Regions from separate parts of the Homo sapiens genome. Here region 2 is linked to region 1. Evidence: fine-mapped expression QTL. A gene starts in region 1. The other region holds a variant in brackets. All regions are shown on one strand. Distances are from middle to middle.

The links. PIP is the estimated chance that this variant, and not a neighbour inherited with it, causes the effect.
Region 2: its variant is fine-mapped to the expression of ZNF687-AS1 in whole blood (INTERVAL, PIP above 0.99).

What each region holds. Positions count from the first base shown.
Region 1 is chr1:151,279,827-151,285,193 of GRCh38, reverse strand. It overlaps ZNF687-AS1 (ZNF687 antisense RNA 1), which reads left to right and starts at 3,265. Exons shown (of 2, transcript NR_135595.1): 1 at 3,265-3,651; 2 at 4,936-5,170. ZNF687 (zinc finger protein 687) reads right to left here and starts at 2,895. Exons shown (of 9, transcript NM_020832.3): 1 at 2,799-2,895. RefSeq lists enhancers at 1,784-1,853, 2,162-3,047, 3,094-3,323, 3,354-3,553, 3,048-3,932 and silencers at 2,274-2,433, 2,714-2,993, 3,675-4,015.
Region 2 is chr1:151,313,645-151,319,011 of GRCh38, reverse strand. PI4KB (phosphatidylinositol 4-kinase beta) reads left to right here. Exons shown (of 12, transcript NM_001369623.2): 2 at 2,503-3,439. The coding sequence starts at 2,531. Among named protein-coding and RNA genes, the nearest start is that of PI4KB, 11 kb to the left of the region's middle. The variant CAAA/A (reference allele first, on the strand shown) is at 2,195.

The DNA.
Region 1 (5,367 bases):
AGGGACAATGCCATAAGCCAAGACTTAAGAAATGATCCTCGTTCAGCTTTATCAGGGGCGTGCAGTACAAGCAAGTTTCTTCAGTGCCTTACTTTTGCTGTTTGAAAGAGGACACAAATGGCCGGGTGTGGTGGCTCACATCTGTAATCCCAGCACTTTGGGAGGCCAATCACTTGGGCCCAGGAGTTCAAGACCACCCTGGGCAACATGGTGAAACTCCCCAGGCATGATGGCACGTGCCTGTAGTCCCAGCTATGCCTCCCAGCTGACATGGGAGGATCCCCTGAGCCCGGGAGGTCGAGGCTGTGATGGGCCATGATCATGCCACTGCACTCCAGCCTGGGTGACAGAGTGATACCGTCTCAAAAAAAAAAAAAAAAAAAAAAAAAAAGACAAGACAAGGCAGAGAGCACAAGTGATCTATGTATCATAGGGTTATTCTGAGCATAATACAAAATTGCTAATGTAAGAATCCCACCAAGAATACGATTTACTATTCCAGATGAACCAAGCAAGGACATGTCAGGTCAAGGAGGAACTGGAAAGGAATAAGCACTGGAACTCTAGGGCTGGGGTCGGAGGCAAGAGTCAGGGGTCATGCAGGATCAAGTCTAGGGCACCTGGGCCATCACTGGCACCTGGAGATCTAGCTTGGTCAGCAGGGAGAAAAGGACTCAAGGAAATTACCCAAGAGACCAAGATGGAAAGAATAAGACACAGGAACAGAAAGAGACAAAGAGAAGAGACAGAGGGGAAAATGGTGATGGCAGCCTGGTCACAAGGGCCCCAGCCTAGACCTCTCCTGTCACAAACACCTGCTGCTCGCTCACTACCTTCCCCAGAGTGCCTGGCCCTCCCCTAGCCAGCCCTTCCTTCTCCACCCCTCCCCATCTTGCTTTCCCGAGGCTAAAACTCCCAAGATACATACACATTTCTCCAGCACAGCTGCCACAGTGGGAAAAAGCCAGGCTCCCTCAACCCTCACCCATCATTTCTGCTCCAAGCTCCTCACCCCATTCCATCCCCTAACTTTAACTCCTCACCCTTTCCATTTTCCTGTGGCAACAGTAGCCCAGGAAGTTTCACCTAGCCTCAACCTGGCCAAGTGCAAAAAATAAAATTAAAAATCCCACAAGAATTATGTGGCACTAATCCAACAAGCAGGCCAGCTCAGAGTTTGTGGGAGACCCAGGTCTGTCCCCTACCAGTGTCTCCCCATGAGTGTTTCTGTATCTACGAAGAAGCAACTAAAGAGTCTATCCCTATCCATTCCCTGCCCAGGTTGCAGGCCATTTCCCAGCCAGCTCTCCCACCTCTCTCCAGTCTTCAGACTGTAACTAGAGACAGTCCCAGCAAGTGGCAGCTGGGATTGCTGGGACCAAGGTTGGGGTGGGGGCAAAACCAAAGGGGGAGTCCTCCCCTCACCCCCACCCTATTCAATTCTGCAGAATCTGGGTTTAAACAAAAACCCTTGTCTCTATAGGCCTGGCTCCTAAGCCTGGTTCCCTCCTGACCAGAGGCCTGAGCTACCTTCCACTCAGGTACTCAGAAAAGTGGACTGCTACAACGAAGACCAGCGGGGACTAGGAGAAAACACCTGCGAACTCACCCGCCCCCACACCCCGCCAGCCACCTCCCTCTTGGGTGCCCCAGTGACTTAGAGGTCATCCGATGGCCACCCACCCAGAGCAGACAGTCGACCAAGCAAGCCGCCAAGCTCAAGCCAAGGAGGATCAGGCCTTCCTGCGACTGCTGAGCCCTGTCTCTAGGGCTCCTATCTCCCCCGCCCCCTTTCCCTCTGTGGTTCCCCAAAAGCCAAAGAGGCTGAACAGGAAGAGGCTGAACAGGCCCAGGTCGAGTGGGGGCTCCACTGACCTTTGCCCGGGCCCAAGGCCTGCAGCGCAGAGGAGGGCGAGGGGCTGGCGGCGATTAGGTTGAGGCCAAGCTGGGTAGCAGACGGAATTAAGTCCCTGCCATCTGCCGAGGGCTGGCGCGGGGAGCAAGTCCTGGGTTTCGAGGAGGGGGCGGGGTGTACACATGAGAAACTACAAGGGAAACTGAGGCGCGCGGCCCTTCTCTCACTCGCACCGGCGTGCGAAGCGAAGGCCGGGCCTCAGCCAGGCCAGGCCCTTTGGGAGCTGCTGCGCAGCACCTGGGGACCCAGGACTACACAGGATAGGGTGGGGAGCTGGAAAGAGGGGAGGAGAGAGGGGACGGTCTCTGCGCGACTCTCAGCTCTCTAGCTGGGGTCCGTCCCAACTCGGACCTCGTCCCCTCCCCTCCGGGCGCAGCGGAGCCTCCTCCCGCCGCGCACTCCCGGAGGCTCGCTAGAGACTGGAGACTGATCGGGGGGTGCGCAGGGGGCCGGGGGCGCAAGCCTGAGTCTTGCCCGGGCCCGGACGCTGACCCGCACCCAGTCGGGGTGCAGGTTCTGCTCCGGCCTGGCCCAGGTCCCCCGCCCCCATCCCCGGGAACGGACACCATTTTAGGTCGCGACATCCCGCAGCCTTCAATCTCCGGGCCGCACTTCGGGTGCCTCTCGAGCCGGGGGCGCCAGGACCTGGGGTTCTCGACCCTCCTGGGGGTTTACCCGGCTACGGACTGTGCTTACAACAGGCCAGGAGTTTCGCCCATCCGCCCCAATGGATGGAGGCGGTGTCTGGGCCTTCCTAGAAGCCGCCCCAGGGGGCGGCGCGGAGAAGGGGGTAGTTGACCAAGTGGGGGAGGGGCGGGGGTATTTACCCGCCCCCCCCAAGGGGGCGGAGCCAAGGGCGGGTATTTACCCCAGGCACGCTTACTTGTTCCGCTCCTGGTGCGGGCCGAGACCCGGCGGTCTCTACCCCGCTCCAGCCGCTGCAGCCACCGCCGCCCTCCCCGCGGCCGCCGCTACTTCCTGCTTCTCTCCGGTTCGGCCTCCCCACTCCCTCTCCTCCCTCCGCGCTCCAGGTCTGGGCTGCCCGTTTTCGCACTCGCCATTGGCCCTTGCCCCCGTCGCTCAGCCCTGTGCCCCTTCCAGCCCCGCACTGGGTTGGCCCTAAATACTGCCGCTCGGAACTAGCCCCGCACAGTCCTCTTATGCTCATTGGGCAAGGGGCCGAGGCCCTCTGAAGATACCTCTCCCCATTGGCTGCGCCGGGGTCCGTCTGCCCCATCTACGAGTCTCGTAAACGATTGGCCTCCGCCACTGTCGCTTAGAAAGAAGCCAGCCTGCTTCCCAGCTTGCCTACTGGAAGGGGGAGCACCCAGGTGCGTCTCCGCCCCTCGCTCCCTACTGGCCGCTCGAAGCTTGAAGCTGCAGTTCACTTTCGCGAATGTAAGGAACCCAGCTTCTGTGTGGTGGGCACTGAGAGCAGAACCGCATTGAGTCGGAGTGGAGCACAGAAGTGTAGGTCCTTTTGCGCTGTTTCAAGCTAAACCCGTGTCACTGATGCCGTACAGAAGTTACAGAATGGGACGCCACCCCAAACATTACGTCATCCGCTGACCATTTCCTTGCGGTCTTCCCACCGTCTAAATCGCCATATAATCTGATGGATGGGGTCCTCGCGCGGTTCAGCTCCTGGGCGACAGCGTAACCCGTCGCTCCTCCCTCTGCGGGAGGGCGTGGACGGGGCACGGGATTTGGAGCATGGAAGGAATCGGGACCTAAAGGTTGGGAAGGGCTCGCGGACCGGAAGCGGGGGAGGTGACGTAGGAGTGCTGGCGTGGCCGGGCCATTTCCAAAGAGGCATTAAAGGAGCAACTGATAGGCGTCCTAAGTATGGGCTGGGGGGGGAACCGCCAGCTCCATTTCCCATTTAAGGGCTCCCCTTTTCCCCGCCCCCAGCATGGAGTGGGGGTGGGGTCAAGGTCGAGTTTTCCCGCGCTTTGTTGCCACGCCCCCTGGAGGCGGGGGAAAGGGAGGAGTCGCTCGGAAAATGAATCTCCTTGATGCTCTAATAGCACTCACTGGCAGAATTCGTATGCAAGCCCAGTGTGCCACCTCGCGCACGCAGCCGCTCGTTAACGGCGTGTTTTTATTTTTTAATTAATTTTTTTGAGGCAGAGCCTCACTCTGCTGCCCAGGCGGGAGCACAGTGGCGCGATCACGGCTGACTGCAGCCTCAACCTCCCAGGCTCCAGTGATCCTCCCGCCTCAGCCTCCTGAGTAGCTGGGACTACAAGTGAGCGCCAAATCGCCCTGCTAACTTTTTTATTTTTTGAAGAGACAGGGTTTTGCCATGTTGCCCAGGCTGGTCTCAAGCAATCCTACAGACGTGAGCCACTACTCCCTACCTTGGCGAAGTTTTTTATTTTTTATTTTTTGAAACGGGGCCTCATTCTGTCGTCCAGACTGGAGTGCAGTGGCGGGATCTCGGCTCACGGCAACCTCCGTCTCCCAGGCTCAAGCAATTCTCCTGCCTCAGCCTTCCGACCAGCTGGGATTACAGGTGTGCGACACTACCCGCCCGGCTAATTTTTGTTTTTTTCTTTTTTTTTTTTTTTTGAGACGGAGTCTCGCTGTGTCGCCCAGGCTGGAGTGCAGTGGCGCGATCTCGGCTCACTGCAAGCTCCGCCTCCCGGGTTCACGCCATTCTCCTGCCTCAGCCTCCCGAGTAGCTGGGACTGCAGGCGCTCTCCACAATGCCCGGCTAATTTTTTGTGTTTTTAGTAGAGACGGGGTTTCACCGTGTTAGCCAGGATAGTCTTGATCTCCTGACCTCGTGATCCGCCCGCCTCGGCCTCCCAAAGTGCTGGGATTACAGGCATGAGCCACCGCGGCCGGCCATTTTTGTATTTTTAGTAGAGACGGGGTTTCACCGCATTGGCCAGGCTGGTCTCGAACTCCTGACCTCAAATCATCCATCCGCCTTGGCCTCCCAAAGTGCTGGGATTACAGATGTGACCCACCGGGCCCGGCAAAGTTTTTAAAAGTGGTTTCGTTACCCTGCCCAGGAGTCCCAGGACACCGGAACCAGGACTCCCCGGCGCACCCGGAGAGTTTCCGAGCTCCTTTGAAGTATGAATCAGAACTTCTGGATGGGAATCCTGGAGCCACCACTTGCCCTATGGTCGCAATGGGCAAGTCGCTCAACCTCCCAGATCCTGTTTTCTCATGAGTAAAACGGGGATTATAATACCCACCTGACAATATTATTTTTGTGAGAATTAAATGAGTTTAGAATGTAAACACGCTTTGTAAAGTAATTGGCAGTTGGGATTAGTGTGCCCTTTCTCCCGGAGCCTTGCATCCTGTGCATTTGCTCAGGTGCTGTTCCTTCTCTGAGCAACTAATTAAAGGTCCCTAACCCGATGTAACCAACCGGCATTCCATTTCCACCTCCTCTTCTGGTCTCCCTATGCGGAATAACAATTACTACTCATATA
Region 2 (5,367 bases), 34 kb before region 1:
AACCCCAGCCTATTTGCCTTCAAGTCCAGAGCTCTTTCCATTATATGTTAGCAGCCACGGCACTGGAGAAAGAGGGTGTGATGTCATGATGTCAGACAACCAGAGAAACGGCACAGCTTCAGCAGGGTTGATGATGGTTGTTTTAGAGCTGCCTTCTTCTAAGTGAAGCCTGGCATGGTATTTACTGGCCTTTATTTTCTGGGAACTTCGAGTTTAAAAGGGAAGGTAAAAAAATACCTGTAACCAGAAAAATATATCAAGACTTTAATTTTATTTATTTATTTATTTATTTATTTATTTGAGACAGAGTTTCGCTCTGTTGCCCAGGCTGGAGTGCAGCGGTGCGATCTCGGCTCACCACAACCTCTGCCTCCCGGGTTCAAGCGATTCTCCTGCCTCAGCCTCCCAAGTAGCTGGGATTACAGGCATGCGCCACCACGCCCAGCTAATTTTGTATTTTTAGTAGAGACGAGGTTTCTCCATGTTGGTCAGGCTGGTCTCGAACTCCTGACCTCAGGTAATCCGCCTGCCTCAGCCTCCCAAAGTGCTGGGATTACAGGCGTGAGCCACCGCGCCCGGCCTTTTTTTTTTTTTTTGAGACAGAGTCTCACTCTGTCTCCAGGCTGGAGTGCAATGGCGTAATCTCGGCTCACTGCAACCTCCACCTCCCAGGTTCAAGCAATTCTCCGGCCTCAGCCTCCTGAGTAGCTGGGATTACAGGCGCCTGCCACCACGCCTGGCTAATTTTTGTATTTTTAGTAGAGACGGGGTTTCACCATGTTGGCCAGGATGGTCTCGATCTCTTGACCTCGTGATCTGCCCACCTCGGCCTCCCAAAGTGCTGGGATTACAGGCGTGAGCCACTGCGCCTAGCCAAGACTTTAATATTAAATAAAGATGGCTGGGCAAGGTGGTTCACACCTGTAATCCTAGTGCTTTGGGAGGCTGAGGCAGGAGAATTGCTTGAGGCCAGGCGTTCAAAGCTAGCCTGGGCAACACAGCAAGACGCCATCTGCACAAAAAAATTTTTTTTTAATTAGCTGAGCATGATGGCACACACCTAAAGTCCTAGCTACTCGGGAGGCTGAGGCAGGAGGATGCCTTGAGCCTAGGAGTTCAAGGTTACAGTGAGCTATGATCATGCCACTGCACTCCAGCCTGGGCAACAGAGCAAGACTTGTCTCTAAAAAATAAAAATAAAGGTGAGATGCACAGGACCTGTGTGTAGAATGTTATATGAGTAAGGAAATATAGTCTAAAGTGGAAAATAAAAAGGTTATAGCAGGCATTTAAAGGGAGACAGGAAGAGCAAGTGGATAGAAAAGTATTTGAAGAGTTAGGGAACAAGGGAGTAACACCTGACTTGCTTCTCAGTCTACCCGAAGAATCTGTAAATCACCAGGCATGGTGGCTCATGCCTGTAATTCCAACACTTTACGAGGCTGAGGAGGGAGGATTGCTTGAGCTCAGTTCAAGACCAGGCTGGGCAACATGGTGAGACCTTGTCTCTACAGAAAAATTTAAAAAATTAACCAGGCATGGAGGCACATGCGTGTAGTCCTGGATACTTGGGAAGCTGAGGTAGGAGGATTGCTTGAGCCCAGAAAATCAAGGCTACAGTGAGTTCTGATCGCGCCACTGCACTCCAGCCTGGGCAACAGAGCAAGACCCTGTCTCAAAAATAATAAGATTAAAAATTTAAAAATAAGCCAGGCATGGTGGTGTGCACCTGTGGTCCCAGCTACTTGGGAGGCTGAGGTGGGAGGCTTGCTTGAGCCCAGGAGGTCAAGGTTGCAATGAGCCCAGATTGTTCAACTGCACTTCAGCCTGGGTAACAGAGCAAGACCTTGTCTCAAAAAAAAAAAAAAAAAAGAATTTGTAAATGTAGGCCAGGTGCAGTGGCTCACGCCTGTAATCCCAGCACTTTGGGAGGCCGAGGTGGGTGGATCATGAGGTTGGGAGATGGAGACCATCCTGGCTAACATGGTGAAACCGTGTGTCTACTAAAAATACAAAACAAAATTAGCTGGACGTTGTGGTGGGCGCCTATAGTCCCAGCTACTTGGGAGGCTGAGGCAGGAGAATGGTGTGAACCCGGGAGGCGGAACTTACAGTGAGCTGAGATTGCGCCACTGCACTCCAGCCTGGGTGACAGAGCGAGACTCCGTCTCAACAACAACAACAACAACAACAA[CAAA/A]AAGAATTTGTAAATCTATATAAATACAACATATACAAAACAACATTTCACATATATAAGCTAAGAACAGAGGCTAAGCTGAGTAACTACAGGAGGAATGACGAGTAATGTAATCAGAAGTGGAGGTAGTCAGGAAAGCTTCCTAGGATATGTCTTCTTATCTGATTTTGAAGGAGTCCAGGAAGACAAAAAGAGGAGGTGCCTGGGAAGGTGTCATAGCAAAGGGAAGATCTGAGGATGGCACCACTAACCAATGTGTGTATGTGTCTCCCTTTCTGTTCTTTTCTCCCTCCCTCTTCCTGTAGCTTGGAAGCTCGAAGTCTGGCTGTGGCCATGGGAGATACAGTAGTGGAGCCTGCCCCCTTGAAGCCAACTTCTGAGCCCACTTCTGGCCCACCAGGGAATAATGGGGGGTCCCTGCTAAGTGTCATCACGGAGGGGGTCGGGGAACTATCAGTGATTGACCCTGAGGTGGCCCAGAAGGCCTGCCAGGAGGTGTTGGAGAAAGTCAAGCTTTTGCATGGAGGCGTGGCAGTCTCTAGCAGAGGCACCCCACTGGAGTTGGTCAATGGGGATGGTGTGGACAGTGAGATCCGTTGCCTAGATGATCCACCTGCCCAGATCAGGGAGGAGGAAGATGAGATGGGGGCCGCTGTGGCCTCAGGCACAGCCAAAGGAGCAAGAAGACGGCGGCAGAACAACTCAGCTAAACAGTCTTGGCTGCTGAGGCTGTTTGAGTCAAAACTGTTTGACATCTCCATGGCCATTTCATACCTGTATAACTCCAAGGAGCCTGGAGTACAAGCCTACATTGGCAACCGGCTCTTCTGCTTTCGCAACGAGGACGTGGACTTCTATCTGCCCCAGTTGCTTAACATGTACATCCACATGGATGAGGACGTGGGTGATGCCATTAAGCCCTACATAGTCCACCGTTGCCGCCAGAGCATTAACTTTTCCCTCCAGTGTGCCCTGTTGCTTGGGGCCTATTCTTCAGACATGCACATTTCCACTCAACGACACTCCCGTGGGACCAAGCTACGGAAGCTGATCCTCTCAGATGAGCTAAAGCCAGCTCACAGGAAGAGGGAGCTGCCCTCCTTGAGCCCGGCCCCTGACACAGGGCTGTCTCCCTCCAAAAGGACTCACCAGCGCTCTAAGTCAGATGCCACTGCCAGCATAAGTCTCAGCAGCAACCTGAAACGAACAGCCAGCAACCCTAAAGTGGAGAATGAGGATGAGGTAAAATTCTGGGGAGGGCCAGAGACAAAAGGTGGTAGAGGGCTGCATGGAGACAGGATGCCTCCTATATACACACAGGGTTACGCTGTTCTTTCTGTCCTCCCTGTTTCATTTCACTGATAAAAGCATGGAATGTTAGAATGGAAAGGCCTTAGAATTCATGTATTTTGCCTGCCTTAGTTTACAAAGGAAGAACTCAGACCCAGAGAGATAAAGTGAGTTGCCTCAGGTCATATAGGTCATGGCAAGGCTGACGCTCCTGACTGTGTCCCAAATCATTTTTATTAAACTGCACTGGCCAGGCGCGGTGGCTCACGCTTGTAATCCCAGCACTTTGGGAGGCTGAGGCAGGCAGATCACGAGGTCAGGAGTTTGAGACCAGCCTGGCCAACATGGCAAAATCCCATCTCTACTAAAAATACAAAAATTAGCCAGGCGTGGTGGTGGGCGCGTGTAATCCCAGCTACTTGGGAGGCTGAGACAGGAGAATCACTTGAACCTGGGAGGCAGAGGTTGCAGTGACCAGAGATCGCGCCACTGCACTCCAGCTTGGGCGACAGAGTGAGACTCCGTCTCTAAATAAATAAATAAATAAATAAACTGCCATTCCATTAACATCTACTATGTTAATGAGAACTGTGGCAGAAGCCCTCCACACCCTGACCTGAGACTTGAGATAGCTACCAGAGCCTCTCAGAGCAGCATCTGTGGGAAAGGAAAAGGTACTATTGTCTTTCTGTGTGCTGGGGTAGGGGAGATGTTAGAACATCGGCTTCATTCTCCTGGCCACTCCTCCTCATAATCTAATCCCTTTTCACTACCCTCTGAAGATCCTACCTTTTGTTGACATAAGTGTAAGGTTTATTTCTTATCACTGAGGCATCTGGAGAATGCCTTCATTGCCTGCCTTTCCTTAGGGGGAAGAGTGCCTTGCTGGTATCTTTCCCATACCATTTGGGAGAAGCACAAAGGGAAGAGAAAGCACTCTTAGTATAGAGTAAATATAGTGCCTAGTCAAGGACCTGGAGGCTGGGAAGAAGAGGAAGCTACAGCAGCAGTTGGAGGTATAACTTAGGATATAGAGCAGGGAAGAGGTGGCCACATGAATAGGTTATACCCACTCTTCACTCCACATCTGGACAGATAGCAGGGAAAGCTGCCCAGTGGACTACCAAGTGTCAGTGACCTGGTGTCCCAGCCAGACAATGGTGCTCCAGTCCTCCCCTCTGACTCACCATTGGCCAGGCTCCCATCCTGGCTTCCAACCCAGCCTAGAAAAGAGGGAGAAAAAAAGGAGGAATTTGCACTTTTTGAAAAATGCGGATAGCTATGGTCTTGGCATCTGCCTCTGTGGGGCATATAACCCACCCACGTTTTTGATACAATGGGACTTCTTTCAAATAGAGGGAAGTCAGAGTGACTAGAGAAAAGGAAGAGGGAGGGAGACTATAGAGCCTGCTCTCTGGAAATTTGGAATTTTGTTAGGATAGTTTAATAATGGTAAAGCTAAAAGTGCTAACATTTATTCAGCACTTATGTGCCAGGCATCTTGCCAAGTACTTTACATTTAATCCTCACAACCATGCTGAGAGACAGGTATTATTTTGCCAGCAAGGAAACTGAGGCTTAGAAAGATTAGATGTTTTGCCCAAGGTCCCTCAACTAGTGAATGTCAGACCAGGACTCAAATCTCCAGCTGGTGCTCATAATCATTCAGCTGAACTACCTTGGTTATTTCTCAATATCTACTTCCCAAGGTCCCCAGCTGTCAGAAGCCATGTGGGGAAGAACGGCCCAGGCTATGGCCATCTGAGCTTCCACATCCATGCACAGGCAAAGCCAAAACTGTTGTCAGAACTAGAATGAACCGTTTTCATATCTGGTTGAGCTTGGCAGCAGAGCCCTGGGTCATGAAGAGAAGTTGCTGC